4 linked regions of the Homo sapiens genome follow. The protein of the gene in region 4 interacts with the protein of the main gene of each other region in a pairwise test. Each region holds a gene or a part of one and is shown on either strand. Other genes may lie near its edges. The genes, in order: MSRB3, ZNF581, POGZ and ASB13.

The links.
Region 1: the proteins of ASB13 (region 4) and MSRB3 interact in binary tests that used the Homo sapiens proteins (3 or more experiments, as listed by UniProt).
Region 2: the proteins of ASB13 (region 4) and ZNF581 interact in binary tests that used the Homo sapiens proteins (3 or more experiments, as listed by UniProt).
Region 3: the proteins of ASB13 (region 4) and POGZ interact in binary tests that used the Homo sapiens proteins (3 or more experiments, as listed by UniProt).

The regions. Positions count from the first base shown.
Region 1 is NC_000012.12:65,274,776-65,281,703, forward strand, and holds the start of MSRB3 (methionine-R-sulfoxide reductase B3 isoform 2 precursor), read left to right. Parts: upstream 1-3,907; 5' UTR 3,908-3,993; coding exon of another isoform or gene 3,994-4,090; intron 4,091-4,181; exon of another isoform or gene 4,182-4,742; intron 4,743-6,928. UniProt on the Homo sapiens protein: Catalyzes the reduction of free and protein-bound methionine sulfoxide to methionine. Isoform 2 is essential for hearing.
Region 2 is NC_000019.10:55,639,199-55,646,141, forward strand, and holds ZNF581 (zinc finger protein 581), read left to right. Parts: upstream 1-4,450; 5' UTR 4,451-4,576; intron 4,577-5,354; 5' UTR 5,355-5,373; coding exon 5,374-5,967; 3' UTR 5,968-6,425; downstream 6,426-6,943. Other genes in the region: ZNF580 (zinc finger protein 580), read left to right, coding at 3,311-3,829. UniProt on the Homo sapiens protein: May be involved in transcriptional regulation.
Region 3 is NC_000001.11:151,407,481-151,414,505, reverse strand, and holds part of POGZ (pogo transposable element with ZNF domain), read left to right. Parts: intron 1-2,109; coding exon 2,110-2,210; intron 2,211-2,734; coding exon 2,735-2,881; intron 2,882-5,677; coding exon 5,678-5,812; intron 5,813-5,924; coding exon 5,925-6,097; intron 6,098-6,265; coding exon 6,266-6,406; intron 6,407-7,025. UniProt on the Homo sapiens protein: Plays a role in mitotic cell cycle progression and is involved in kinetochore assembly and mitotic sister chromatid cohesion.
Region 4 is NC_000010.11:5,656,574-5,663,598, forward strand, and holds part of ASB13 (ankyrin repeat and SOCS box protein 13), read right to left. Parts: intron 1-7,025. UniProt on the Homo sapiens protein: May be a substrate-recognition component of a SCF-like ECS (Elongin-Cullin-SOCS-box protein) E3 ubiquitin-protein ligase complex which mediates the ubiquitination and subsequent proteasomal degradation of target proteins.

The sequences.
Region 1 (6,928 bases), on a different chromosome or scaffold from region 4:
TTACTTACTGCAGCATATCCAAAGCAAAATCTGGCAGAGTCAGGCAGCATGTCAATCACGGGAGTATAGGCTTCAACTTCCTCCAGAATTAATCAACAAAAGGGATAGCTTCGACTGTGTCAAACAGAAAATACCATCATCGGAGATGCAGGCAAATAACTTTACTGTGAAAAGAAGGACAATGGTTACTTTAATTTGGTCTTCTCTCTCTGCTTAGGAATCCCACCTGATTTCCTGGTAGTGAGTGCTTATTATTTTAACACACTTGGTGACTGGGGGCTGGATGATGTCATGGCAATGGAGATCATTTTTCAGAATCTGAGAGAAAAATTCAGATGTCTCCCTTAGCCAGTCAGTATTCACGGTGTGCCCCCGACATTGTTGAGGACAGTTCTCAACCCTATTCCCACTGTAGCACATTGAGGCAAGAGGTATGCTTCTATCAGTGTAAGGCAGTGTTCTCAGAGGTGAGAGTATTGACCGCCCACTTCCCACTATAGGAAAGCAGAATTTGGGGAGTTTGTATTGAGTGTAGTTTGAAGAATTACATCCCCCTAAGAGGTATTACTCTCACTCTCCAATTGAGTATTAATTGGTTTAGAACAGTGGCACTTGTTTTGCAGTTGTTGGCATCCACCTAAGATGTTTCTTGGTATATGTGAAGTGGGGGCTGTCCCAAGGCTTTGTGCAGTGTCTGAGGAGATTTTATTAAAGAGCTGAGAATAGCACCTTGGGCAGGTTACAGCTTAGATGCCTTTCATGTTTACCTATTCTTTTTGAAAGAGGCTGCCCCAAGCACAGCCCTATAAAAAGACAGCAACACAGTCTGTTTATTTAGGATGGGTGGCCATGTTCTGTTGGCATGTGACCTTCCCATCTTAGCCACAACTGAAGAACTAGCACCTGGATCGGGGGCGGCCAGTGGCTTGTGAGACAGACTCAATATAAGAATGGTGATAGAATCAGATTCTCCCCCCTGGGGCATTTGGTTATGAGATATATGGAGAGAGTTGGCACCTGGTTGTGGGAACAGAAGTGGAAATACAGGCAGAGAGACAAAGAGCTGTGGTTACACAACTTGAATTATTGTGTGTTCTGAAGACATTTCATGAGTTGCAGCTGTGGTATGCCAGAGCTGGCTCTACGGCCCCAAAAACTGGTTGTGTGGATCCCTTCCCAACCCTGCCTTCAGAGACATCTGGTTGGTGGGAGTATTTGTACCATGTGAATTGGTTAATACTGTAGATCAGGGCCCCTAGCCCTTTCATCCAGATCTGGTTGTTAAATGTTTACCAGCACACCACTGGGTTGGGGGAGGGATGGTGTAGGAAGCAGGCAGAAGCAGCTACCTCCTCTGGGTCTTTACCCTTAAAATCAATGTTGAATGGAATATGGTAACATGATTGTTATTAAGGCTATAATAAAGAAGACATTTAAAAAGCATTGTAAAATACATGATTAAAATATCAATGGTTAAACTACAAAACTTATAGGAATGTGGTCAAGGGGGTAGTACCTTTCCCATTCCCCTAGCTTTCAAAGGCACAGGCCCCGCCCACCATGCCTACAAAGGATGATCTGACAAGCCAGGTAAGCCTCTGGTCTTATTTCCACATGTATTCTTTACCTTGGTTACTTGAGGTAACCTGAGTGCATACCAGTTACTTAAAACCAAAAGCGCCCAATGAATACAGTTTTTGAATGCCACTTTTTTTTAATGTAGAGAAAATAAGACAGATTAGTATGGTAAAAGTATATATGCACTTTAGAATGAGGATTTAATTCTAATACTACTTCACTTCTTCCTGGTAGCATATTACTTACCTATGCCTCAGTCTCCTTAGCTGTAAAATAGGGATAAAAATAATCTCAGAGATATTTGTAAGAATTAAATGAGATATCAGTTATAAAAAACATCTAGCACAGTGTCTGGCACTTATCATGCACTTAGTAACTTTAGTTCTTTTCTGCCACTCTTAGCATATTTATTCAAGCCTTTAGAATAGTGGTTGGCATTGCTGACAGTGATGTCAGCTATGTTGATACAATGAACTCTCTATTTTTACTAACATGAATTGGGTTGTAATGATATTGCATTTTTTATAATTCTATATTTTTGTATGTAAGGTTCTTCACTAAAATATTTTAAATATAGGCATAATTATTGCAATCCTTTGAAACATGCTTTACACTTAGGGAGCTTCTAAATTCCTTTCTACAAATGGCTGTGCCCATTTTATTTTTGTTTTTAAACAAACATTTGGACTATGGGCAAAGAACTTTGCAAAGTGTTGTGGGGGAAGTAGAAAAACAGACACTTATGTAACACAAGGCTATAAAAAAAGAGGAAACGGAGGGAATACTGAAGAGCTTCTTCAGTATTTCCAACTACCTAGGTTCTAGGTACCTAATTAAATAGTCATGTTATGTGTCATTTAAATCCTTTATTCATTGCATTACAATTTATTCACCATTACTTTATCTGGGTCATCTACCCTTAGTCCCATTATAATTGCCAATGCATTAAGGGTGACATTTGCCCATTTGCTATATGTAATTCACAGGATGTGGTGTTTTTCAGTACCAGATGTTTTGAGGGGAGCCACTTGCAATGGACTGTTTTTTGGTGTATGTGTTTTAATAGTTTGCCAGAACTGAGTTTGATTTGAAACAACGTTCTTGATTTTCAAATACAGCATTTTCAAACAAATAGTGTGATGTACAAATTACCATCACTTTAGTTCACGTTGAAATAATCCACACTCTAAATCTGTTTGACATTTACCCCTTAAGTATTTTGGATCAATAAATCATTTCTGTATCATCTAGCATCTTAAAATGTTCGTAAGTAACTACTTAATACCCTACATATCCAGGTCCTGTCCCATTAGTTTGAGGGAAAAAATATATTATAGTAATTAAGACATAATTATGTTGTCTTGAAAAGCTAAGGGTCATTTGGACTTGATTACCCAAGGAGTTATCAGTGCCAAGGAAAATTAGGCAACTACAGGCTTGGGCCTGTAATTAAACATCTAGGACTGACATTTTGTTCATCAGAGGTGGCACCTTCTGAATGAATTACACCATTTCATTTTAGACAAGCTACGGTACATACAAAACAAGTGTGTGGAGGGGGTTGGGGGGTGGACATGAATAGAGATTGGAGGTGGAGAGAAAGACCGGTGTAAACTTAAGCATTTTGTTGTGAAAAACTACTGTTCAGCCAGCCTGCCTGGGCTCCATATATGGTGTTCAAATATAAGTTTGGGACGAGCACCTTTGCAATTTTGGCCAAGAACACACACACACTCACCCTCCTCTGCTAGAGAGGGCCCGCTCACCTGGAACGCAGGCGGCTGGTTCTCCGTATTACAGTGAGTGCTCGTTCTGTATGTATAGGATGGCCAAGTAACTAACTGGCAGCCCTGCTCCTGCCTCACTCTCCCACAACTTTTTATCCCCTCACCACCAACGCTCTCAACAACCCCTGACACGTCTTCCCACAGGTCCCTGGCTCGCTGTCCGGTCTCTTCGTGTTGGTTTGTCCGTTTCCCACTCCTTCAGCGGTCTCAGGTGGAACACGCCAGGTGGGCGCTTGGCTGTGTTCTGGGGTCCCGAGTTGGAAAGGGATGCCCCCAGGCAGAAGGCGGCCGGCAGCCCTGGGGCAGAGGAGGACGAGGGGGAGGAGAGGAGCAGGAGGGCAGGGCAGAGAAGGAGGAGGAGGAGGACGGTGCAGAGGAGGAGGAGGAGGAGGAAGAGGACAGGGCAGAGGAGGAGGGAGTTGGCGGCCGCCGAGCCCCGGGCAGCGGGCCCCGTCCGCGGCCGGCGCGCTCCGTGGTCCTCCCTCGCTCGTCTCCTATGCTCATATTTGGACTCGGCTGCCCGTGCCCAGGAATTTCCCGTCATGCCTCCCGCCGCCCCGTCCGTCGCCCGGAGCCGGGGAGGGAGGGAGCGAGGTTCGGACACCGGCGGCGGCTGCCTGGCCTTTCCATGAGCCCGCGGCGGACCCTCCCGCGCCCCCTCTCGCTCTGCCTCTCCCTCTGCCTCTGCCTCTGCCTGGCCGCGGCTCTGGGAAGTGCGCAGTCCGGTAAGTTCGGGCTCCCCTCCCCTCTCCTCCTCGCCTCACCCCTCCCACCCCGACCCTGCCACGTTAGGGTGTGACCCCGAGCCGGGATTCCATTCTGCGCCTGCTGCGCCCCCTCGGCCACCTGCGGGGACAGCCCCTGCCTCAGCCGAGAAGGGGAGCAGAAGGGTTGCGCCCCGCGCCAGCGGTGAGGGGCCGAACGGAAGGAGGTCAGGGCTGGTTTCCCCCCACCCGCCGAAGGGAGGCGTCTGGCAGCCTCACTGACACCTTATCCTGTCCCGGGAGCGAACCTGAACCCGCGGGAGCCTCTCGCCCCGCGCGGGCCCAGGAGAGAGGGATCTGGCGGGGCAGCCCGCGGGAGGCAGGGGAGGGGTCCATCCCGGAGCCCTCTGCTCTGTGCGTCGACCCTGCCGGGGTTGCCGCTCAGATAACGGGCCCGAGGCGTGGGAACCGGCCCGCCAGGCCTGCGCTTTTCGCCGCGCGCCTCGGAGAGGACGGGGGTGCGGGGCGGCGGGCAGGCGGCAGGGAGGGGCGCACCCGGGAGCGCACCCGCCGCCCGCCCTCCCTGCGCTGCTGCCCCGCTGCTGGGCCAGACTCCAGCGGGCCCGCCTGGCATTTCACAGGCCAAAATCGAACAGAACCCCGAGTTTGCCAGGTATCAGTTTTGCTTTGTTTTTAAGCAGAAAAAGGCATCCAAGTCTATTTTTGAAGTTTTACACTGGGCTATTTCGAGTCAAACTATATGAATGAAAAGTGCTGTTCCTGCCTTATTTGGTTTAGGGCTAATAGCTATCGGAAGTGGCAGTTATGAAGTCGTTACAGTAAGACTTTATAAGATAATCTTCTTGAATCATGTGGGAACTGTTGGGGGGAATTTAATATCAGATTATTATTTTAAAAAGCAGTTATTTTAAAGTACAAAGGTAGGGATAAAGGTAAATGTGAAATTGCATGGACTTTTACGTTTGTGATGAGTAGTCGTCAAAGCTTCTTGCTTCTTAATTTTATCGGGAATGGAAGAATATAAATTATAATTCCTTAGAGCTGAGATTTCTTAGGAGATTTTAGTTTGCTTTTGTTTTTTCTACCAATAGACTAAATTGTCAAATAAGATATGGCAAACTAGGACTCATAAATTAGTTGAAACATGACTCTATGAAGCATAGATTATATTCAGTACTCTCTGGTTTATCTCTTCATATTTTCATTTGCAGCGCTGGTGGCAAGATCGATTTTCAAAAACAATTTTGTCTATAAAAAAACTTCAGGGTTCATATAACTTATAAAATTGTCAGTTCAGATTAATGGCAGATATTTACAATATTTAACTTTATTCAATTTGCAATTTGTAAATAGTAACTTGAGCAGTGATATCAGTTTCATGTTTCTTTCTGCATAGTATTGTTTTTCAAAAAAACCCTGTTTTTTATAGATTCATATTTTGGAAGTAACTTTAATAGCACTTCTTGGGAAATACAACAGGTTCTAATTTCACATTTTTCAATGGATTTCTAAAAAATACTGTGCTGGATAGTGAAGAGTGGATTTTATTGCCAGGAAACATATGTATGCTTTCTTTTTCCTCAGTGATGTGTTGACTTACCTAATACTTGTGGTGAAACGGCCTTCGAAGACCAGAATCCACTGTACTGGCCCCTTGCCAGTAATTTTGAACATCAAGTTTATATTTGGACCATTTAAACATATATTCTTTTAATTCCGGTCCCAGCTGATATATCAGTCTAATTTCTGATGACTTTTATTAGGGCCCTATATGAATATCTGGAAATTTTTATATTAAGATAAGTAGCTCTTTGCTACTTATCTAGAATTTTGTCACAGTGCTTAAACTGCTTGTATGGCAAGGTTGCAGCATACAATGTAATTTAGATTTTGAATCAACACACTGCTTTTTGTTTTTAAAAGTGCTTGTTCTAATATTTTAACTAAGATGTTAATCCATTAAGTCAGAAATCCTTGCTATTTTGCTCAACTCAAAAGAATATCCAAAGACTATCCCAACAGTAAGGTTCATCAGTTTTTCTAATACATATGCCATTTAATAATTAAAAATAGATTTTAAGGCCACGTGTGGTGGCTCATGCCTGTAATGCAACACTTTGGGAGGCCAGTGTGGGAGGATTGCTTGAACCCAGGAGTTCGAGACCGGCCTGGTCAACATAGGGATACCCTGTCTCTACAAAAATTAAAAAAAAATTAGCTGGGCATAGTGGCTCACTCCTGTGGTCTCAGCTACTTGGGAAGCCAAAGTGGGAGGATTGCTTGGGCCAGGGAGATCGAGGCTGTGGTAAGCCGTGATCACACCACTGCATTTTTGGTTCTGTCATAATCTGGTCACAATCCCTCTAATTTATCTGCACCTGTATAATTAATTTATCATAGTTATGGATTTGGTTGATGAATTTGATTCCCATGTTTAGCTTCTCGGTAAAATTATTAAGTTGGACAGTTTCCATGTCTCTTCTAACTCCAAGATCCTATAATGTTGTTTTTGTTTATGTAACTCTTCAGAGCCACCTACTACATGTGGTTCAAACTTCTGATTGTCAGCCTGTGACTTGCTATACATGTCAAACTGGCCTACCTTAGCCAGATGTGATGGGTGTGGTCCAGTGTTGGAGAGTCCGGATCTGTCTCAGGATTGTGTTAATACCTGGAACATGCACAAAGATACATACATACCTGGACAGATTCCGTGTTAAGCTTCTATCACTTTTTCTTCCTCATCTAATAGCAGAAAGTGCTGATTATGTCATAGGGTAAATGCCTAACTGGTTTTTGGGGATAGTTAAGCCCAGGCCTTAAGACAGTTTGATATTC
Region 2 (6,943 bases), on a different chromosome or scaffold from region 4:
TGGGGGAGGGTGCTACTGCCATCTGGTGGGTGGAGGCCAAGGATGCTGCTCAACACTCTACAGTGCACAGGATGGGCCCCCACAACAAAGAGTGGTCCGGCTCAAAATGTGTGGTGGCCCACGCCTGTAGTCCCAGCTGTTTGGGAGACTGAAGTGGAAGGATCACTTGTGCCTGGGAGGGTGAGGCTGCAGTGAGCCAGAAGCATGCCACTGCACTCCAGCGTGGGCGACAGAGTGAGACTCTGTCTCAAAAAATATACATACTGCCCAGTAAAATGTTTAAAAAGTACCTTGTGTCCCAAACCAAATATAACTGTGAGGCCTTTTGGGCCCTTGGGCCTCCAGTTTACAACTGGTTGACAGTGGTCTCTGGAATTGTTCCATAAGGTAGGAGCCATATGTGGCTTAAATTTTGATTATGGGAAATTAGTATTTTTTGAGACAGTCTCCCTCTGTTGCCCAGGCTGCAGTATAGTGGCACGATCTTGGCACACTGCAACCTCCACCTCCTGGGTTCAAGCGATTCTCCTGCCTCAGCCTCCCAAGTAGCTGGGACTGTAGGGGAGCACCACTACGGCCGGCTAATTTTTGTACTTTTAGTAGAGAAGGAGTTTCACCATGTTGGCCAGGCTGGTCTCGAACTCCTGACCTCAGGTGATCCGCCCGCCTTGGCCTCCGAAAGTGCTGGGGTTACAGGTGTGAGCCACCGTGCTGATTATGGGAAATGTAATACAATTTAAAATTCAGGTCCTCTGATACACCAGCCACATTTCAAGAGTGTAAGAGTCCCACGTGGCTAGTGACTGTCATAGAACTTTCCACCATTGCAGAAAGTTCTGATGGACAGTGCTCTAGGATGTAGCTGTGGCACCCCAGGGTCTTGGGGCTCGCTGTGACAGTTACTCCTCTTCTGTCCCCCACTCTCAGCTGCACCTGCAGATGCTGCTGCTGCCGCCCTCCTGCGAGGCCGTGGCGCCACGTGGCTGGAGGAGGAGCTGCAGCTGCCCCGAGTGCTGCCGCGTGTGCAGCTCTCCAGTGCGGCTGCAGCGCCACCGCGCGTTGCTTTCGACGCCGGAGTCCTTCGCATGCGCAGCCAGCGCCCGGGCCTCAAGTGCCCCAGGACCTGGCGCAGCCCGCGAGCCCGCATCAGGCTTCCAGTGGGCCCCGTGGGCAGTGCCAGCCTTTCCCACCTCCGCATCTGGCAAAGCCTGGCCTTCGCTGCGCTTCGGTGTCGCCACATGCCTTCTGGAAATATCACACCTCCCCACCTGCGCATGCAGCCGTCTGGCCCTCTGTGGGCCTCGGTTCCCGCATGTGCCCCGTGGAAAGAACATACCTTCCCCAACTATCTGGCAGCGTCTGGCCTTCTCCGGGCCTCGGCCTCCCCATTTGCTGGGTGGAGAATCACGGCCCGGCCACATCGGAGCCAATGGCTGGTCTCTGGACCTCGGTCTCCACATTTGCTCAGCCGGCAGGAACATCCCTTCTCCCGCCCTCTACCTCGGTGGGTGGCCACGGCCGAGCAGGCAGCGACGGCCCAGTGGAAAGAGGACAAACCCTTGTGGGCCTTAGGGCGAAGACGTAACTTTGCTTAGTCTCGGTTTATTGGCCGATCTCTTGTCAAGCGGCGGAATCGTTCCGTTCGGGAGGTGGGAGGGGAGCGGGGCCGCCGGGGGCGGGCGTCTTCAGTGGACCCCACGCCTCCGGTCCCCTCCCCGCAGGGCGCTCCGCAGAGGCGAGGGGTGGGAGCGCCGGCTCCAGGCGGCGGAACCTCCGCACTGGGCTCGCGCGCTTCCGGCCGGCGCCTTTTCCCAGGGACTCCGCCAACCCCTCGCACCCCCGCGCCCCCAGTCCCCGCGTCCCCGGCGCCGCCGGCCCGGAGCTGCCCGGAAGTCTCGGTTCCGCCGCCGGCGCTCGCCAGGGGAAGCCCGGGGCCGCCCGGGACCTCGGCCCGTTCCTCCGGACCCGAGAGGCCGCCGCACGGGGTACGGGGGCCGGGATGGAGGGAGGAGCCTGGCCCTGGGACGACGCCGGGGCCAGGCAGGCTGGGGGAGTGCGCTGGAGCCACCCGGGATGGGGGTGGGGGTCGGGAGCGGCAGGATCGGGCGGAGGGACGGGAGGGGAAGTCGAGGCGCCAGGGCTCCTTGGGGAAGTGAAGGCAATAGGAGGGGCCCCAGGGCCAGGGGACAGGCGGTGTGTAGCGGGATGGGGGCGAAAACGCCCGGGCGCTGGGGTTCCCATAAACAAGGGGAGCAGAGCAAAAGAACGGGCGGGGGACCACGCTGTGTGTAACAGGGAGAGGGATGGGGCTCCTGGAAGAGGTGAACACGAGGAGAAAGAGAGATGCCAGACGTACACAGAAAGGAGGGGAAAGTGGGCTTGGGAGAGGTGCTGTGGGAAGCGGAGTCCCGGAGCCTGGTGTGCATAACGGGGTTTGGGAGAAGGCCCCTGATGGGTACAGAAAGAAGTAACGATGTCACCGCCATATATGGGGGGCGAGAGAAAAGGGGGCCTTTGGGGAGAATGTAGCAGGTAGCCAGGTTGGGGGGGCGGGGTATACAGAAGGAAGGCATTTGAGCCATTTTGGGGTGTATAGATGTAGTAAGACGATGGGTTCCGTAGTGGGGAGAGGTGACTAGACTTCGAGGTGCTAAGTGTAGGAACAGGATGGAAAAGCCCTAGTGAAATGTGGGGAATTGGGTTAGTGGGGCTCTGGGGAGGTACCTAGAGAGGAAGTGAGGGAGGCCACGGAATATGAAGATGGGGAGGCCCTGCGGCATGTAGTGGGGACGGAGGGCCAGGAGGCCGATACGGGGGCCGGTGGGGGGGTAGGGGGCGGCAAAGGGAGGGGAAGTAAACTGAACTGGGGCTGGGCAACAGGAAAAAAGAAGAAACCACAGATTAGAGAAATCTCGGCGGTCAGGAGGCCCGGGGTCTAAGATGTAAAGAGGTAAACAGATTTAGGGATTGATTGTCTGCTGGGGTGGGTTGAGAGGAGAAAAGGGAAGAAAAGTCGGGGGACTACGTCCTCAGACCTGACCTGAGTGGTGAGAGGTGGACCCAGGAGGAGTGGCAGGTGGTGGCGGGGTTTTGCAGAGCTCAGTTGGAGGCCCTCTCCGAGGCAGCTTGATGGAACGTGGGAGAGCCGGGCTGGAGTCACAGTTTTTATTTTGCTAGGGAGGTAGTCAGTGGCGCACAAAGGGTAACAAGCAGTGATAGTGGGGATGCTTTCCATTTTAGGAAACTTTTCCTAAAAGGAAGTGGCAATTTTAACTAATCTCCCCTCCGCCGCTCCCAGCTGCCGCTCCAGATGCTGCTGCTGCCGCCGCGGCCACCCCACCCTCGGTCCTCCTCTCCGGAGGCCATGGACCCACCGCCCCCCAAGGCTCCCCCTTTCCCCAAGGCGGAAGGCCCCTCCTCCACTCCTTCCTCGGCGGCGGGGCCCCGACCCCCGCGGCTGGGCCGCCACCTCCTCATCGACGCCAATGGGGTCCCCTACACATACACGGTGCAGCTGGAGGAGGAGCCCCGGGGCCCGCCCCAGCGCGAGGCGCCCCCAGGAGAGCCCGGCCCTCGCAAGGGCTACAGCTGCCCGGAGTGCGCCCGTGTCTTTGCCAGCCCTCTGCGGCTGCAGAGCCACCGCGTGTCGCACTCGGACCTCAAGCCCTTCACGTGCGGCGCCTGCGGCAAGGCCTTCAAGCGCTCCAGCCACCTGTCGCGGCATCGCGCCACGCACCGCGCCCGCGCCGGGCCGCCGCACACCTGCCCGCTCTGCCCACGCCGCTTCCAGGACGCCGCGGAGCTGGCGCAGCACGTGCGCCTCCACTAAGCTCGAGACCCGGCCTGTGCTGCCCTGCCCGTCTCAGGGCCACCAAGTCTGACCCACACAGCGTCACTCACTCCCACACACACCCCCTGGCTCTGCTGAGGTTACTGCCTTACCCTGGGCCTCAGTTTCCCCACCTTCCAAAGGGAGGAGCATCATTCCTTCCTTACCCCCTTTCTAGCTGTGTGATGTAGACCAAAGTCGTTGCCCCTCCCTGGGCCTGGGAACCAGTCGGAACTGGGTTCCAGTCCAGCTGTGCTGTGTGAGCCTGTGCAAGTGACATGACCTCTCTAAACCTTGGTTTTCTGCTCTCTGGAGCGGTGAACCGGTGGTTGTCTGCGGGGAAGAGATGATAAAGAGCACGGGCACGGTCTGGTTCATTTCTGTATCTACCCCCCTTCCGCCCACGCCCCCGACCCTTTGCTCAATAAACATTCCGCACTCCATTTTCAGGCTCTTCCTTGCGTGTGCGTGCACGTTGGGTGCTGGGGGGTGGAGACCGGATCTTCCTCGCTTGGGTACTTTCCTCTCGGTGTGTGTTTCTGGCCGGAGCCGTTTCGCGACGGCCCGGGCGCCCCGCCCCAACCTTCCTTCCCTAGACCCTCTTCTCTCCCTTCGGCTTCTCTCTTTCGGCCGGCGCCGCCAGTTCCTGGGGCACACCCAGAGGTCCCCTTCTCGCCGCCGCCTGCAACTGCGAGGGTAGCCCGGGGCCGCTTGGAGTCGCCCGGACCTGAGAGGCTGCTGCACTGGGTACGGGGGCCGGGAGGAGGAAGGGGGCTGGGGGCGGGCGGCGGGAGGGGCTGGACCGCGTGGAGGGTACCTGGGCCGGGGCGGGAGTGGGGCAGACGCCGGAGGGGGCTGTTCTGGAGCTTGGAGGGGGCGAGAACTTACACAGAAAGGCCCAGAAAGCGAGGGCTGCGGCCCCGGGGGTGGAACCCCGGAGAGCGCTGGGACCTAGAACGAGCCTGGTGGAGGCCGGGCGAGGACTAGAGAGAACCTGAGGTGGGTGGACGGGTGGGAGCACGGAGTTGTTCAGACACGTGGCTGGAGAGAGGGCCGGAACCTGGGGGTCCTAACGTCGGAGCCCCTGTGAATAGGCTTGGCTTGTATGGAGGGGGTCAGGAAAGGCTTGAGTATGTAGCATAGGCCAACACGCAGACCCTGGAAAGGGCTAGAAGGAGGGGAGGGAGAGGCCTGGAGGCCTGCGGGGTGGGGCACCCAGTGACCTGGGAGGGCACAAAGAGGAAGGTTAGAGCGAGGTCCAGGTTGTGCAGAGGAGGTCAAGAGATCCTGTGAGTACAGTGTATGGTGGAGCACCGAGGCTAGGAGAGGTTTTCCAAGGAGGAAGACCCTGGGGACCTTTTAGGGGGCCACAGACTCCAGCTGTGAGCGGGACTGGAAAAGAGGGACTGAGGGGCAGCAGGATGCAGAGGTCCTGGGCCGGGTATAGGGAGGGAAAAGGATGGAGCCTGTGGTGCTGAGCTGCCCTCTTCTATATAACCTTCTTATCCCATCTCCCATCCACCAGGCCTCAGCCAGCCCTCCGGATGCTGGTGCTGCCATCCCCCTGCCCTCAGCCTCTGGCATTTTCCTCCGTTGAGACCATGGAGGGCCCTCCCCGTCGGACTTGCCGCTCCCCAGAACCTGGACCTTCCTCCTCCATCGGATCTCCCCAGGCTTCATCTCCTCCAAGGCCCAACCACTACCTGCTTATTGACACTCAGGGTGTCCCCTACACAGTGCTGGTGGACGAGGAGTCACAGAGGGAGCCAGGGGCCAGTGGGGCTCCAGGCCAGAAAAAGTGCTACAGCTGCCCCGTGTGCTCAAGGGTCTTCGAGTACATGTCCTACCTTCAGCGACACAGCATCACCCACTCGGAGGTAAAGCCCTTCGAGTGTGACATCTGTGGGAAGGCATTCAAGCGCGCCAGCCACTTGGCACGGCACCATTCCATTCACCTGGCGGGTGGTGGGCGGCCCCACGGCTGCCCGCTCTGCCCTCGCCGCTTCCGGGATGCGGGTGAGCTGGCCCAGCACAGCCGGGTGCACTCTGGGGAACGCCCGTTTCAGTGTCCACACTGCCCTCGCCGCTTTATGGAGCAGAACACACTGCAGAAACACACGCGGTGGAAGCATCCATGAGCCGGGCTGCCGGGTGCCCCAGGTACCACAGGACTTTGCAGGGAGCCTGGACTCCTGTCCAGACACCTGGTGAGAGCCTGAGGCTGGTGTTCAGGGCCCTGGACACAGACACAGAGCAGCCGCATCTCAAAGGCAGAGCCCTGCCTGAAGGAGGAATCCGTGAGTAATCTTCAGGTCCTCCGTGTTCTGGAGCTGAGATGGGAATGAGCCCCTACACAGAATGGAGTCCTCTAGCCTAAAGATATCAGCTGTTCCATGGCAGAGCCTTGACTGGATGGAGGTGGGGAGTGTGGTGTGTAAAGTCTCTGGCCTCATAAAAGGTGGCTGTGGGTCGTCAGGAATCTGCGCCATCTTCCTGGGGCTTCTGCGCTGTTGTTGGGGAAGGGACCCCAGTCCTGCCTTCCACCCCCCAACCAGGCCTGAGACTGATCAAACAATAAACACGTTTCCCACTCTGAGCACTCGAGGTTTGTTTTTAGAGACAGCATCTCAGACCCTCTTTGGTGGCCGTCTAGCAGGGAGACCTCAGCTTGCCTGGCTGGGGAATGGGAAGGTTGGCCTGCCTTGGGGTTATCCCCTCCTCAGCTCCTGAAGACCTGGGTCATCTGGGAAGAATGTTTTTAACTGAAACAATTTTAAAACCACAATCTCCTGTTACAAACACATTTTATATGGCAATAGAGTATACAGATAAGCAAAATACACGTGAACCAAGTTTCCTTTTTTTTTTTTTGAGACGGAGTTTCACTCTTTTTGCCCAGGCTGGAGTCCAATGGCACAATCTCGGATCACCGCAATGCCTCCTGGGTTCAAGCGATTCTCCTGCCTCAGCCTCCCTAGTAGCTGGGATTACAAGCGTGTGCCACCATGCCCAGCTAATTTTGTATTTTTAGTAGAGACGGGGTTTCTCCATGTTGGTCAGGCTGTTCTTGAACTCCCAACCTCAGGTGATTCACCTGCCTCGGCCTCCCAAAGT
Region 3 (7,025 bases), on a different chromosome or scaffold from region 4:
CAGCCAACACATGTAAATCTTAACCTGATGCTTGTACATTAGAAATTGCTTAATAAGTGTTTTTATTATTGATGTTGCATGACAGCTGTGAAAATAGAGCTGATAAATAGGTTATAGGAGAAAGAGTGAATGAGATTGCCCAGGGAAAACATAGACTAAGAAAGGCCTGGACAAAATATTGCTTAAAGGTGTTCTAGAAGAGAAAAATGAGAGAGGTAAACAAATCGGGGGGTGAGTGGAAAAGAGATAATATCGTTATGTTGCTAGTTAACTGTTTCCCAAACATGTGGTTAACTTTCATACCTACTTGCCTTTCCTCCTGCTTTTCTCTTGGTCCTCTCTCTGGCTGGCTGAGCCCCATTCTTTGACAATTCAGCTTTTATATGTTGTTATAGCTTTTCCTCATTCCTTTATGCAGAATTTCTTATTTATCCATGTCCTCATAGCACCTAATGTACCTGTAGACAGTGTTTCTAAATGGAGTTGCAGACCTCTTTGAGAATAAATATGAAATGTTTGAATCCTCTTCCTAGAAAAATCTACATTTTACTCTTTTGCAAATAATTTCAGAGAAAGCCTGGATTCCTAGAGGCCTGTTCCATAGACCCCAGATTAAGAACCCCTGGCTTTTGTTTGTTTGTTTTACTTTAAAAAATTACTTGGCTAGGCACAGTGGCTCATACCTGTAATTCTGGTACTTTGGGAGGCTGAGATGGGAGGATTGCTTGAGCTTGGGAGGTCAGGGTTGCAGTGAGCCATGATTGAGCCACTGCGCTCTAGCGTGCGAGACAGAACGAGACTCTGTCTCAAAACAAAAATCCAGGGTTCTCGGTAGTTAAAAAAAGAAAAAAGAATTATTTCAACTTTATTCATATTTCTTTGGCTGGGGTGTAGGGGGCTGGGGGCGGGGGGAGGTTAGACATTGTCCAGTAAATGCCCAAGGCTTTAAGCTTCCAGTTTTCATATTTGCAAAAACTTGAAACTAATTCCATTAAAGTGACAAAAATGTAAATAATCTCTCTCTTTTTGCCATACTGTATAATTAAAAATATGTAGCAGTTAAAAGTCTTACCAAAATTGGCCGGTGCACTGGCTCACACCTGTAATTCTAGCACTTTGGGAGACTGAAGTGGATTGACAAAAGGATTGCTTGAGGCCAGGAGTTTCCGACCAGCCTGGGCAACATGGCGAGACCCTGTCCCTACAAAAAAAAATTTTTTTTAATTACTTGGGCATGGTGGTGCACCACTGTAGTCCTAGCTACTTGGGAGGCTGAAACAGGAGGCTCGCTTGAGCTCAAAGGATAGTCCTAGCTACTCAGGAGGCTGCGGTGAGCTATGATCATGCTCCAGCCTGAGCAACAGTGAGATTCTGTCTCTTAAAAAAAAAAAAAAAAAAAAAAGCCCAGGCACGGTGGCTCACACCTATAATCCCAGCACTTTGGGAGGCTGGGACAGGTAGATCACCTGAGGTCAGGAGTTCGAGACCAACCTGGCCAACATGAAATTACCAAAAATTGTCTCAGAAGTTTGACAAAATTGTTCATTTGTGTCATAAAATTTTGTCAAAATTTTTTCTCATAAGCTTGACAAAATGGACAATTTCAAAGAGAGTAGGAGGTATTGGAGGCCAGCTGATTAGCAGTGGGAAATCATATGGGCTAGTACCAAGTTTTTGCCTTATTATAAGTATAGAGAAGTGACAGTTCCTACATGCAGTTTGAAATAATGGTGACAGAATGCAGGGTTTGGAATCCGAGATAGTGCCTAAATTTTGAGCTCAGGAAGAAATGGGGAAAGGAAAAAGGGAAACAGTGGTAAGACAGGAGGATGCTGAATTAGGTTAGAGTTGACGATAGAATAACCAATTTAAAATGTCTTATAGATAAAATCTAGAATGAAGCTTTGGTAAGAAGTCTGAGCTACGTACATAAGATTATCAGCAACATATATGTTAAGGTGGAGCCATTTAAAGAAAGAACAGAAGGGACCTATGATTTACTGATTGTTGAAAATCAAAATAAAGGAGGCAGAGAAAATAAAGATTGTGAGTCAGCAGGACTTTTGTCTTATTTTCAAGTGGATTTATTGATTACTTTTCTTCTTACAGCCAAGTGCAAGATCTGTGAATGGGCGTTTGAAAGTGAGCCACTATTTCTCCAGCATATGAAGGATACTCATAAGCCTGGAGAGATGCCTTATGTTTGCCAGGTATTGCCTTTTTCTCCAGGGAGTTTTAGCAGTTTTGCCCTCAGGAAGAATACAAAGAATTTACTAATGAATATTGTTGACCACCTACTGCATACACTCAGTTTAGGAACTCTGAGTAGGTACAGAAGAAATAGTAAACACAGTTTATCTTCAGGGTTTCCATGCAGGAGAAAAACATAAAAGAACATGTCCACAAGTAGACTAGCCGGGAACATGTGCATATTCTAAGGGAGTGTCTGTCTCCTGAACGTGCCCTTTGGAAATTGACAGAAAAGGCTTTATTTTTCTTAGTTAGAGAACATGGATTATTCTTAGACTTTCTGTCCCTTCCTATTTTTAAAGTAATAGCTAAACCTATCACAAACATAGCCCAGCATTACAAAGTCAGGAAAATAATTTGATTTCTATGCATTTGAGAAAACTTTTTTTTTTTAATTTAAAAATTTTTGTTGCTACCTTTTTTTTTAAGGCCTCTCAGTTGTTCACTTCATTCTTAGCCTTATTTTCCCTCCTATGTGACTCAGGTGTGTCAATATCGCTCCTCACTCTACTCTGAGGTAGATGTCCATTTTCGGATGATCCATGAGGATACCCGGCATCTGCTCTGCCCTTATTGCCTGAAGGTCTTCAAAAATGGCAATGCATTCCAACAGCATTACATGAGGCACCAGGTACTAGGCACCAAGCAATTCCCATATTCTCTTGTTTTTTTTTTTTTTAAACATGGATGCTGGGGCCAGGGCTGAGCTAGGCAAATAATTTGGGCAGAGATTATAATATGCATATGTTTGCAGAAATTTATTGAATTCACTTAATGTGCCATGTACTAGTCTAGATGCTAGAGATTTAGTAGTAAACAAGGCAAACAATACAATAAAACATGAAGAGTACTGTGTTGGGGAAATTATAGGATATAGAAAATCACATAGCTATTCTGGGTGCCTAGTAAGGCTTCCAGAAAGAAGTGTTGTTCAATACCTGAGGGATGAATAAGAATGAGCCAGATGAAATAAGACGAAGAACAGTGTGCCCAAGGCACAAAGCAAAATTGTGGAGGTTCAAGAAATTGAGAGAGATTCAGTGTAGGGTGTAAGAGACAGAGGGGTTGGAAGTTAGGCAGGGACAGATCATGGAGGATCTTTTAAGCCATGAAAAGAATTCACTGGGAAGCCACTAAAGGGGTTTTAAGCCCTGGAGTGATGTGTTCAGCTTTAGTTAAGGCTTTATACTGCCTGCACTGCAGAGAATGGATTAAAGGAGATTGAGACTACAGTTAGGGAAACTAGCTAGAAGGCCTTTTTCAGTAGTTTAGGTGAGAGATGATAGTGGCTATTGGCTTTTGAAATAAAAAGAGGGTAGAGTTGAGAGATATTCAGAAGATTTGTGATATTTATGATGTAGAGATGGATTAGGTGAAGGTAGCAATGCAGTAGTTAAGAATAGTGCCTAAGATTCTGTCTTGGGCAGTTGGGTGAATGAGGGAACTATTTGCTGAAATAGAAACAATAGAGAAAGTATATTTGTGAGGGGGGAGATCATGAGCTTGGATATTGTAAGTTAGCAGTATCTGTGGATGTCAAGTGTAGCTGTTGGATAATAGATCTCAAGCCTGTGAGAGAACTCTGGGTTGTAGAAAAGATTTAGGAATCAGCGTTATATAAATCCTATAGATTTTAAACTTAAATACCATGGGCCCCCCAACCCTGTTGAGAATAAGAGAAGGCTTAGGATATTTGAAGTCCCTTATCTATAAAGCAACCACCATAGTACTAGGAGGAAAACCAGAAGAGTCTTAACCTTAAGGAAACTGGGGAGAAGAAAGTGTTTTAAAGAAAAGGGTGTGATCAAAATGTCATATGTTACAGGAAGGTGTCAAGCAACATAGAGACTTAGAAACAGGCCTTTAATTTAGCAACATTGATGAGAGCCATTTTGTTGGTTGGTAGGGTGGAAGTCACATTTCAGCAGAACAAATGAATGAGAGGTAAGGAAATGAAGACGATGTATTTAAAGAAGTTTATTTATAAAAAGGGAGGACCCAGGGTAGGTAAATCCAGAGGAAGAAGTGGCAAAGAAGAGTTTTTTATTGCTTTTATTTTCCTTATAAGATGAAAAGCTATGACTTCGTTTTAAAATACTACAAGAAGAGAGCCACTAGAGGAGAGTGAAAGGTATATAGTATATAAGAGAGGATTCAAAATGGAGAATAAGATGAGTGCATGTGTGCTTAATAGTCACATACATATGCACACAAACATATGTACCCTATTACACTCATAGTCTCCTTTGCACAGTAGTGACTGCTGATTGTCTACCACAACTGTATTTCCAAATAGGGGCATGGAAATTGTCTCTTAGCCTAAGCTTACAGAGCTTTGTTATCCTACTAAAGAAAATCATAGACATGGGTTCTATTTTTGAAGGACTTCAATACTAGGCAGACTGAATCCTCAAAGTGGTCTCACCAGGAGACATATCTGTATATACTGATGTGTTAAGTGAGAAAACAGCAAGGTATAGACAAGTGCTATCATTTGTGTTAAAAGGAGAAAAAGAAGAGGGCTGAGGTGGGAGGATCACTTGAGCCCAGGAGGTGGAGTCCAGCCTGGGCAACATGGTGAGACAACATCTCTACAAAAAGGAAAGGGAAAAAAGTAAGGGCCAGGCACAGTGATGCACGCCTGTAATCCCAACACTTTGGGAGGCCAAGGCAGGTAGATCACTTGAACCCAGGAGTTGAAGACCAGCCTGGGCAACATGGTGACACCCCGTCTCTACAAAAAAATACAAAAAGTAGCCGGGCGTGGTGGCACGTGCCTGTAGTCCCAGCTACTTGGGACGTGCAGTGAGCTATGAACATGCCACTGCACTCCAGCCTGGGCTACAGAGAGAGACCCTGTCTCAAAAAAAGGGGGCGAGGCAGGTAATGATTGGATATGAATGTATTTGTGATACAGTTATATGTGTAGACTGCCCACGAAAGCATACTCAGGAAACTGGTAATAAGTTGTTTGTATGGAAGGGGACTGAGTGTTGGAGTTGAAAGCAAAGTTGGAAGAGTATAGAAAAAAAAGTATGACTTTAGTTTACTATGTACATTGTCCTTTTTTAAAAAAAGAAGAATGAAGAATGTCCAGAAGAATGTCCAGTTGTCAGCAGTGTAAAGATATAATACAAATAAAGGTTACATCACTCATTCAAATTGTTAAAACAAGTCAGGAAAGGATGATTTGAGAACTTAGTCATCCTGGACTAGAATCCATCTTTCTTTGATATCATGGGAGGTGATGATTCTCAATGGTAGGTTTTGTGGTCATGTTGCATATTTCTTTCTTACTCTCTTAAATTATCAACAGAAAGGTGGGAAGAATGATATGGTTGACATTGATCTGCTTTCTCCTCAAAAAAGAAAATTTATTAGGAACCTTTAAGGGATTTTGTCTCTTTTTTTCCCTCCCCCACTTCAGAAGAGAAATGTTTATCACTGCAACAAATGCCGGCTGCAGTTTCTCTTTGCCAAGGACAAAATTGAACACAAGCTTCAACACCATAAAACCTTCCGTAAACCCAAGCAGCTGGAGGGCTTGAAACCAGGCACCAAGGTAAAGAGTTTGCCAGTGTCTTTTATAGGCCCAGGGAGGGAGGAATAGAGATTTTCAGTATTCTGAAATTTAGTGTGGGTGATGTCTCATTGTTACTTCCCTTGGTTCTCAGGTGACAATCCGGGCTTCCCGAGGGCAGCCACGAACTGTTCCTGTATCCTCTAATGATACACCTCCCAGCGCCTTGCAGGAGGCAGCACCGCTGACCTCCTCAATGGACCCTCTGCCTGTCTTCCTTTATCCCCCTGTCCAGCGCAGCATCCAGAAGAGAGCTGTTAGGAAAATGTCAGCGCCTTCTTCTAAGTGCTGGGCGGGTGGGGACTGGGTGGCCAGGATTATTCCTGATACACAGTGCAATCTGGTAGCTTTTTAGCAGGGTTTGTTGTCTGAAAATCCTACATTTTGGGGACCCATGAGGCAGTAATGAGAATTCTTTTTTTTTTTCCCCCACAGGAGTGTCATGGGCCGGCAGACATGCCTGGAGTGCAGCTTCGAGATCCCAGACTTCCCTAATCATTTCCCTACTTACGTACACTGCTCTCTGTGTCGCTATAGCACCTGCTGTTCTCGAGCTTATGCCAACCACATGATCAAGTAAGTTGGTTTTTAACCAGTGTTTTAGCTTGAGAGTTCAGATTCTTTTTTTCTTCTTCTTCTTCTTCTTTTTTTTTTTTTTTTTTTGAAGACAGGGTCTCACTCTGTCCCCTAGGCTGGAGTGCAATAGCATGATCTTGGCTCACTGCAACCTCTGCCTCCTGGGTTCAAGTGATTCTCCTGTCTCAGCCTCCCAAGTAGCTGGGATTATAGGTGTGCACCACCATGCCTGGCTGATTTTTTTGTATTTTTAGTAGAGACGGGGTTTCACCTTGTTGGCCAGGCTGGTCTCAAACTCCTGAGCTCAGGTGATCCACCTGCCTCGGCCTCCCTAAAGTGCTGGGATTACAGACATGAGCCACTGCGCCCGGCCCCAGCCAGATTCTTGAGCACTCATTTCATTTTCTCCCCTGCTTCTAATATGTTTCCTCCTTCAACTCTTAGAGCTATTTGTTCTTCTCTCCTAGCAGAGTGAGAGGCTCTGTTTTTTCGGTTTTGATGGTCTGTGCTCTAATTTCATAGGGCCTTGCTATTCAAGTACCAGTAGTATTAGGTGGGAGCTTGTTAGAAATGCTGACTCTCAGCCCCGCCCTAGGCCTACTGAACCAGAATGTGAATT
Region 4 (7,025 bases):
CAAAAGAACTAACATTTTTGTTTGAGGGGCCTTTATCCATTCTTACACAGAGGCTAGGATAATTTTAGAGCATTAAGATAATATGCAAAAAGAGCAAACGTGTAGCTTTGAAATTAACTCTGGGATTAAAAGGAAAGCATGTAAACAACTAGCTATGTTTTGTTAAAGATTTATAGGAGCACTGCGACCTGATCAAGGACAAAGATGTTCCCAACCTCCTAGGACCTTCACTGGTGCCCAGATGTCACTGGTCCTTGGTTACCTCTTGATCCCAACAGCCTCTTTTTCCCACTGCCCTTAACATAATTAAGAACCCGAAACCTGTACTGACTTAGACGGCACTTTAGACACTTATCTACCATCTTCCTGGTTTGCTGGCTCTCCAGATAAACCTGCCACCAACTCTTGTCTCTCGTATTTGGCTTTTGAGCAGTAAGCAGCCAAATCTGGGTTCAGTTACAACTAGACATAAAATTTTTAAAAGAAAATCTAATTTTATTTCTCTGTATCACCAGTCTACAAAGGAAATGCAACTTATTTCTAGTGAATCACATCAGCTGCTGTAGTCTTACTGCAGCAATTCAGGGCAAAAATTAGCAGCAGACATGATAAGAAAAAAAGAAAAAAGAAACTTCCGTGCATCAAAGGGCACAATCAGAGTGAAATGGCAACCCACAGAATGGGAGAAAATATTTGCAAGTCATATATCTGAAAAGGGGTTAGTCCAGAATATATAAAGAACTCCTGCAACTCAAAAACAAAAAAAACAAATAACCAGGTTTAAAAATGGGCAAACGAGTTGAACAGACATTTCTCTAAACAGGATGCACACAGCCACAAACATAAAAAAAAAAGGTATTCAAGGTCACTAATCATTAAAGAAATGCAAATCAAAACCACAATAAGATACTACCTCACACCTGTTAGGATTATCAAAAAAAACCAAATACGTGTTGGCGAGAATGTGGAGAAAGTGGTACTCTTGTGCACTGATGATGGGAATATAAAATGGTCTAGCCACTGTGGAAGACTGTATGGCAGTTCCTAAAAAATGAAACATAGGATATCATATGATCCAGCAACTCCACTGCTGGGCATATCTCCAGAAGAATTGAAAGCAGGGTCTTGAGGAGAGATTCATTTGTACACCCACATTCATAGCAGCATTATTCTCAACAATCCAAGTGTCCAGTGGAATATTATTCAGCGTTGGGAATGAAGGAAATCCTGTCCCATGCTACAACATGGATGAACCTTGAGGACATTATGCTGAGTCAAACAAGCCATTTCTAGGCCAGGCACGCTGGCTCACACCTGTAATCCCAGCACTTTGGGAGGCCGAGGCGGGCAGATCACTTGAGGTTAGGAGTTCGAGACCAGCATGGCCAACATGGGGAAACCCTGTCTCTACTAAGAATACAAAAATTAGCCAGGCATGGTGGCTGTAATCCATGGTGCTTCAGTAGTGCCAGCTACTCAGAGGCTGAGGCACGAGAATCGCATGAACCCAGGAGACAGAGGTTGCAGTGAACTGAGATCACACCACTGCACTCCAGCCTGGGTGACAGAGAGAGACTCTGTCTCAAAAATAAATAAATAAATACGCTATTTCTGGCCAGGTGCAGTGGCTCAAAACTCTAATCCCAGCACTTTGGGAGGCCGAGGCAGGCAATATGGTGAAACCCCATCTCTACTAAAATTACAAAAATTAGCTGGGCATGGTGGCCCATGCCTATAATCCCAGCTACTATGGAGGCTAAGGCAGGAGAATCACTTGAACCCAGGAGGTGGAGGTTGCAGTGAGCCAAAATCGTGCCATTGCACTACGGCCTGGGTGACTTTGTCTGAAAAAAAAAAAAAAAACAAAACCAAATAAGCCATTTCTGAAAAGCCAAATACTGTATGATTCCACTTATGTGAGGTCCCTCGAGTAGTCAAATTCATGGAGATGGAAAGTAGAAAGGTAGTTGCCAGGGGCTTGGGGGAGGAGAAATGGGGAGTTAGTGTTTCATGGGGACAGAATTTCAGTTTTACAGGATGAAAAAGTTCTAGAGATCTGTTACACAAAAATGTAAATGTACTCAACCCTACTGAAGTGGACACTTGAAATGGCTAAGGTGGTAACTTTTGTGTTCTGTGCTCTCTACTACAATTAAAAATAGAAAAAAAAAATTTTTAAGTAACCAGAAGCTGGAGGACCTAGAGCATGGGGGGACTGTCACCCGCAGGCTGTCCTCATAGGAGATTTACAGTGGGGAAGGGAGGGATAGAAGGCTAGAGGACAGCAGGTGCCTGGGGTGCACCTCGTCACCTTTCCTGACACCCCCAAACCACCGATGGCCCTTCCAGGGGGCGAAGAGACCCACTCTCTTCATAAACATCAGCCCCCAGCACCCACCACCACAGAGCAATGTGACTCAGCCCTGCAATGGCAGGGTCAGTGTCCCAGGTGAAAAGAATCGGGAAGGACAGCTTATGGTCACGGACCTTAAATGGATGAGGAGTGAGCACAGGAAATGCTGTCTGTTAGTGAATGGACTGGCCAGGATGGATTGCAGGCTGCTTCCAGCCCCTGTGCCAGGCTCCCTGTGGTGGCAAGACGCCCCCCCTCCCCAATCCCTGCACCCTCTCCCTTGGCGGAGCACCGCCTTGGAAACCCGAGACTCCATGCCGTGCTGGCGAGTTCCCTCCGGGACTCACGTTCTGCCCCTAAATCCCACCCACTGCTGCCACATAATAGGTTGCCCCCTCCCTAATGCAGATGATTGACAAGCCAGTCTGACAGGGCCTGCTCACAAGGGCTCCCTCCTCCAGGGTGGAACCCAGGCAAGGAACAAGGTCCACGACCATGCAGTCACAGGCCCTGTCCCCAGGCTCCCCGTCATGCACACAGCCGTGTCCAGTGACACCAAACTCTACCGACTCACACAGAGTCCAGTGGCTGCAAGTCCCATGCTTTGCGTATGCTGTTCCTTCCCCTGCCTGGAAAGCTCTTCTCAGCCCCATTCCCCACCTTGCTTCCGGCTGAAATTCCTCGACTGAGGGGACCCCTGCTCCTTCAGGAAGCCTCCCGAGCATGCAGCCCACCCCCCCACGCCATCTCCACACTATTGCCCCACCACCAGCTGATCAGCATTCTCCCTTCCCTGGGCCTTCCCTAAGGCCATCCCCTGTCACCTTGGGAATAGTACCACAGCTAGCCAGCCTCCCCACACAGGCTGCTCGTGCAGGTATCTGAATGAATAAGCACTCCCCAGACGCATCTTCCCCTGCCAGACTGAACTTGGACCCCTGCCGCTAGGTTCTGTCCCCTGCTCCACTTTCCAGCCCAGGACAGTGGCCTGAGACCTAACATGATGCTTGCACACTCTGGCCAAGCGGGGGCTCGTGCATCCATTAAATGAAGAACTTGTGTTGCAACAAGAGCCAAGGCTGCAGCCCTGGTGACTCATGACCCAGTCCTGATGGCTGGATTCTACCCACTTCCTCCTCTGCTTCAGGTCAGGGTCACGGTGTTACACACTATGGCTCCTCCTGTTTACCTGCCGCCTGCAGGCCTGAGCTCATGAATAGCCAAGCAAAAGCCTTTGCCCTGAAAACTAGAGTTTCACAGATGTCACCTATGTATCTACTGCAGACTACGGCAGACGTCACCTTGAGAAGGAATGACACGTGCTTCAGAACGTTCTCTCCACTCTTCCACCCACGATACGACCTTACTGGCTAGGACCGTGTGCCAGGTGTGGACCTTTCTGGACCCCAGCTCCTCTTCCCCTCTCTTGCCCCTTTGCTGGGGCCCCGACACCCTCCCATCTAAGGCTGTGCCCTGCCCCAGGACTGACCTGTCCTTTGAGATTAGGAAGCCCTGGCTGAACAGGTCAAGTGGCTCAGGGTCAGCCTACCCTCAGGGAGCAGACTCTACAGGGGCAAGCTGCAGGAACCACCCTGCTCGTGAGTTCAAAGCTCGTCTCACAGCTTACCCTCTCCAAACCTCGGCCTCCTCTCTCCTCAAATGGGTGCTGTGAAGACTGAAGAAAATCGTGCCTGGCCACCTGTAAATGCTGTGAGTAACAGGCACTGCCATGGCTCCAGGATCATTGCTGTCATTATTACCCTACCAGTCCTGTGGGGAGGGCAGGTGCGGGTTCTACCATCTCATCTTTGTTCCATAGCAAGCCCCCCAATCTTGCATTCCAGCTCCAGTAACTCAATCCTTACCTAAGTCGGGTGACTGATTGAGTCTCTGCCCAATTTTTCTGCTCAGTTCCCGGGCCCTCTGAGACCAGAGCCCCTCCATCGCTCCCTGCCTTGCAAGCCACCCAGCAGTGTGCCGGGCCATCTCGCCAGCTGGCTGCTGCACAGCCAGGTTCTGCTGGCCGGAGACCACCAGCAGCTTGAAAGCAGCCAGGATGTGAGTATTTAGACCAGGGAAAGCAGCAAAGCAGACTTTTATTTTTGTTTCTTTTTCTTTATTTTCCCCCTAGGCAGCTGGTTTGCCAGTATCTCCTCAGTCATCCCAGAGCCAGAGCCCCACTCGTTGGGCCCAAGTGGCAGCTCTGTGCCCAGGCCCGGCCACCCCCTAGAGAGCCTGTGTCTAGGAGGCAGCTGGCCTGCTGGCCCCTGCACACTGCAGAGCTGGGCACCTCCAGAGCCCATCCTCCACACTGCCCTGCCTGCACCCACACTGGCGGGCCTCACTTGACCCACACAGGGACTGCAACCATAAAAGCAGCAGAGCCACTTGCCCCCAACCCCGCCCCGCCGAGCCTGGGGCCTCTCCAGGGTCAGGGCCCACTCCAACAAAGAGCATTCTCAAATGCCACCAGGGACACCTTCCAGACAAAGCTGATCCAGTAGCATGCTGGCTTTGAATCCAGGTCAAATACCCAAGATGCACCTTTTTTCCTATTTTGTTTTCTTATTGTTTATTTATTTATTTTTGAAACAGGGTCTCGCTGTCACCCAAGCTGAAGTGCAGTGGTGTGATCAGGGCTCACTGCAGCCTCAACCTCCTAGGTTCAAGTGATCCTCCCACCTCAGCCTCCCAAGTAGCTGGGACTACAGGCCCATGCACCACCACCACACTGGATAATTTTTGTATTTTCTGTAGAGACAGGGTTTCACCATGTTGCCCAGGCTGGTCTCAAACTCCTGGGTTCAAGTGATCCTCCCGCCTTGGCCTCCCTAAGTGCTGGGATTACAGGCATGAGCCCCAGGCCCAGCCCAGAATGCACTCTTAAATGTTGCTGGAGTCAGAAATTTTGTTCCGAGTAAATCACCAAGGGGAGTCTGGGGTCCTGGCTGCAGAAATGTCATTTCTGCGTCAAAAACAACCAGCAGCCTCTGTAAGAAGCCCTCCCTGCAAAACCCCAGTAAGCATTCTTGAAATGGTGAGGGTGGGCCCTCCACCCTGACCCACCCATAAAGCCGGGCTGGGGCGGGCGAGCACACACTTGGGGAACCCACCCTGGAAGAACCAAGGCAGGCACCGGAAGCCCCCAGGGAGGGTTTTCTGATGCTGCTCTCAATGGGCTCATCCTCAGCTCTCAGGGAAAAGTCAAGAGTCCTGAGTGACATAGCCCCCCAGGGTCCCAGAAAGCTAAGGATTCATGAACACGCGCTGACTGTCAGAACTGAAAAGGCCTTAGAAATGCTGGACGATGGGCTGGGCGCAGTGGCTCACGCCTGTAATCCCAGCACTTCGGGAGGCTGAGGCAGGCGGATCACCTGAGGTCAAGAGTTCGAGATCAGCCTGGCCAACATGGCAAAACCCCATCTCTACTAAAAATACAAAAATTAGCTGGGTGTGGTGGCATGCACCTGTAATCCCAGTAATAATCCCAGCTACTCAGGAGGCTGAGACAGGAGAATCGCTTGAACCAAGCAGTGGAGACTGCAGTGAGCTGAGATCGTGCCACTGCACTCCAGCCTGGGCGACAGACTGAGACTCTGTCGAGAAGGGGGGGGGAGGGGAGGGGAGGGGAGGGGAGGGGAGAAGAGAAGAGAAGAGAAGAGAAGAGAAGAGAAGAGAAGAGAAGAGAAGAGAAGAGAAGAGAAGAGAAGAGATGAGATCCTGGATGATTAACACTCCCAGAAAAAGCCAAATGTAGCATCCATTCATCTCTGCCTGCTGTCCAAACCACACACAAGTGACGGTAAGGGAATAAAATGGGGGCTAAATCCACAAAGACAAAGAGACCACAGAGGAAAAGATAAATGAAGGATCTCATGGTGACAACTAAAGACAGTGTACGTGACAACCCCAGCACAAAGAGGGTGCCTAACGCATGGCACTTAACCACTATCACCAAATTTTAATAGCGCAGCTCAAATTTCAGTTTTAGTGTCCTTGAAACCCAAGGAAAAAAAATATGGATCTTTATTTTTCTATGTAGAAACTCCCACTTACAAGTCTGGGCTCAGTGTTTTGTTGCTACAGTGATATTTTTCAACCATGTCTTTTTAAATGTTTTCATTATGAATCCCCAAAATATAGTTTGTCGGTAAACTTGAGGTCAAACAGCAGACTGATTTTAAGATGTGTTCAATGAAGCAAAAATGCCAGTATTTGCCTTCTTAGAGGGACAAAATGGTCAAAACTCAGTAAGAGTGGAGAAAAGAAAGGGAAAGAATAAATGAAAGCAGAAGACAAGGAGAAAAGAGGTGAAAATAGGTGGGCTAAGGAGTAAAGGAACTGGGAGAAAGGACCGAAGGTGTCAGGAGAGCTTGGTGAATAACAGGCATTTCCTTCCACCTGCAGGACGCTAAAACCACACTGGATTCGCTGCATTATCCTTCAATGTCTCCTCCCCTGACTCCCTCATCACTCACCCAATTATCTGCTACCCCGACTCCTCCCTTGCCCCTGGTCCACCCCAAAGGCTATGGCCCAGGGAGCATGGGGAGGGTCCCCCAGTCCCACCCTCAAGGCACTGTGGGAGCTCAGGCCCTGACTCAGGACCCCTGAGCTCTGATCCTGCATCCTCCCTGTCTCAGTTAAGGGACCTGAGGGACGCTTTTCACCC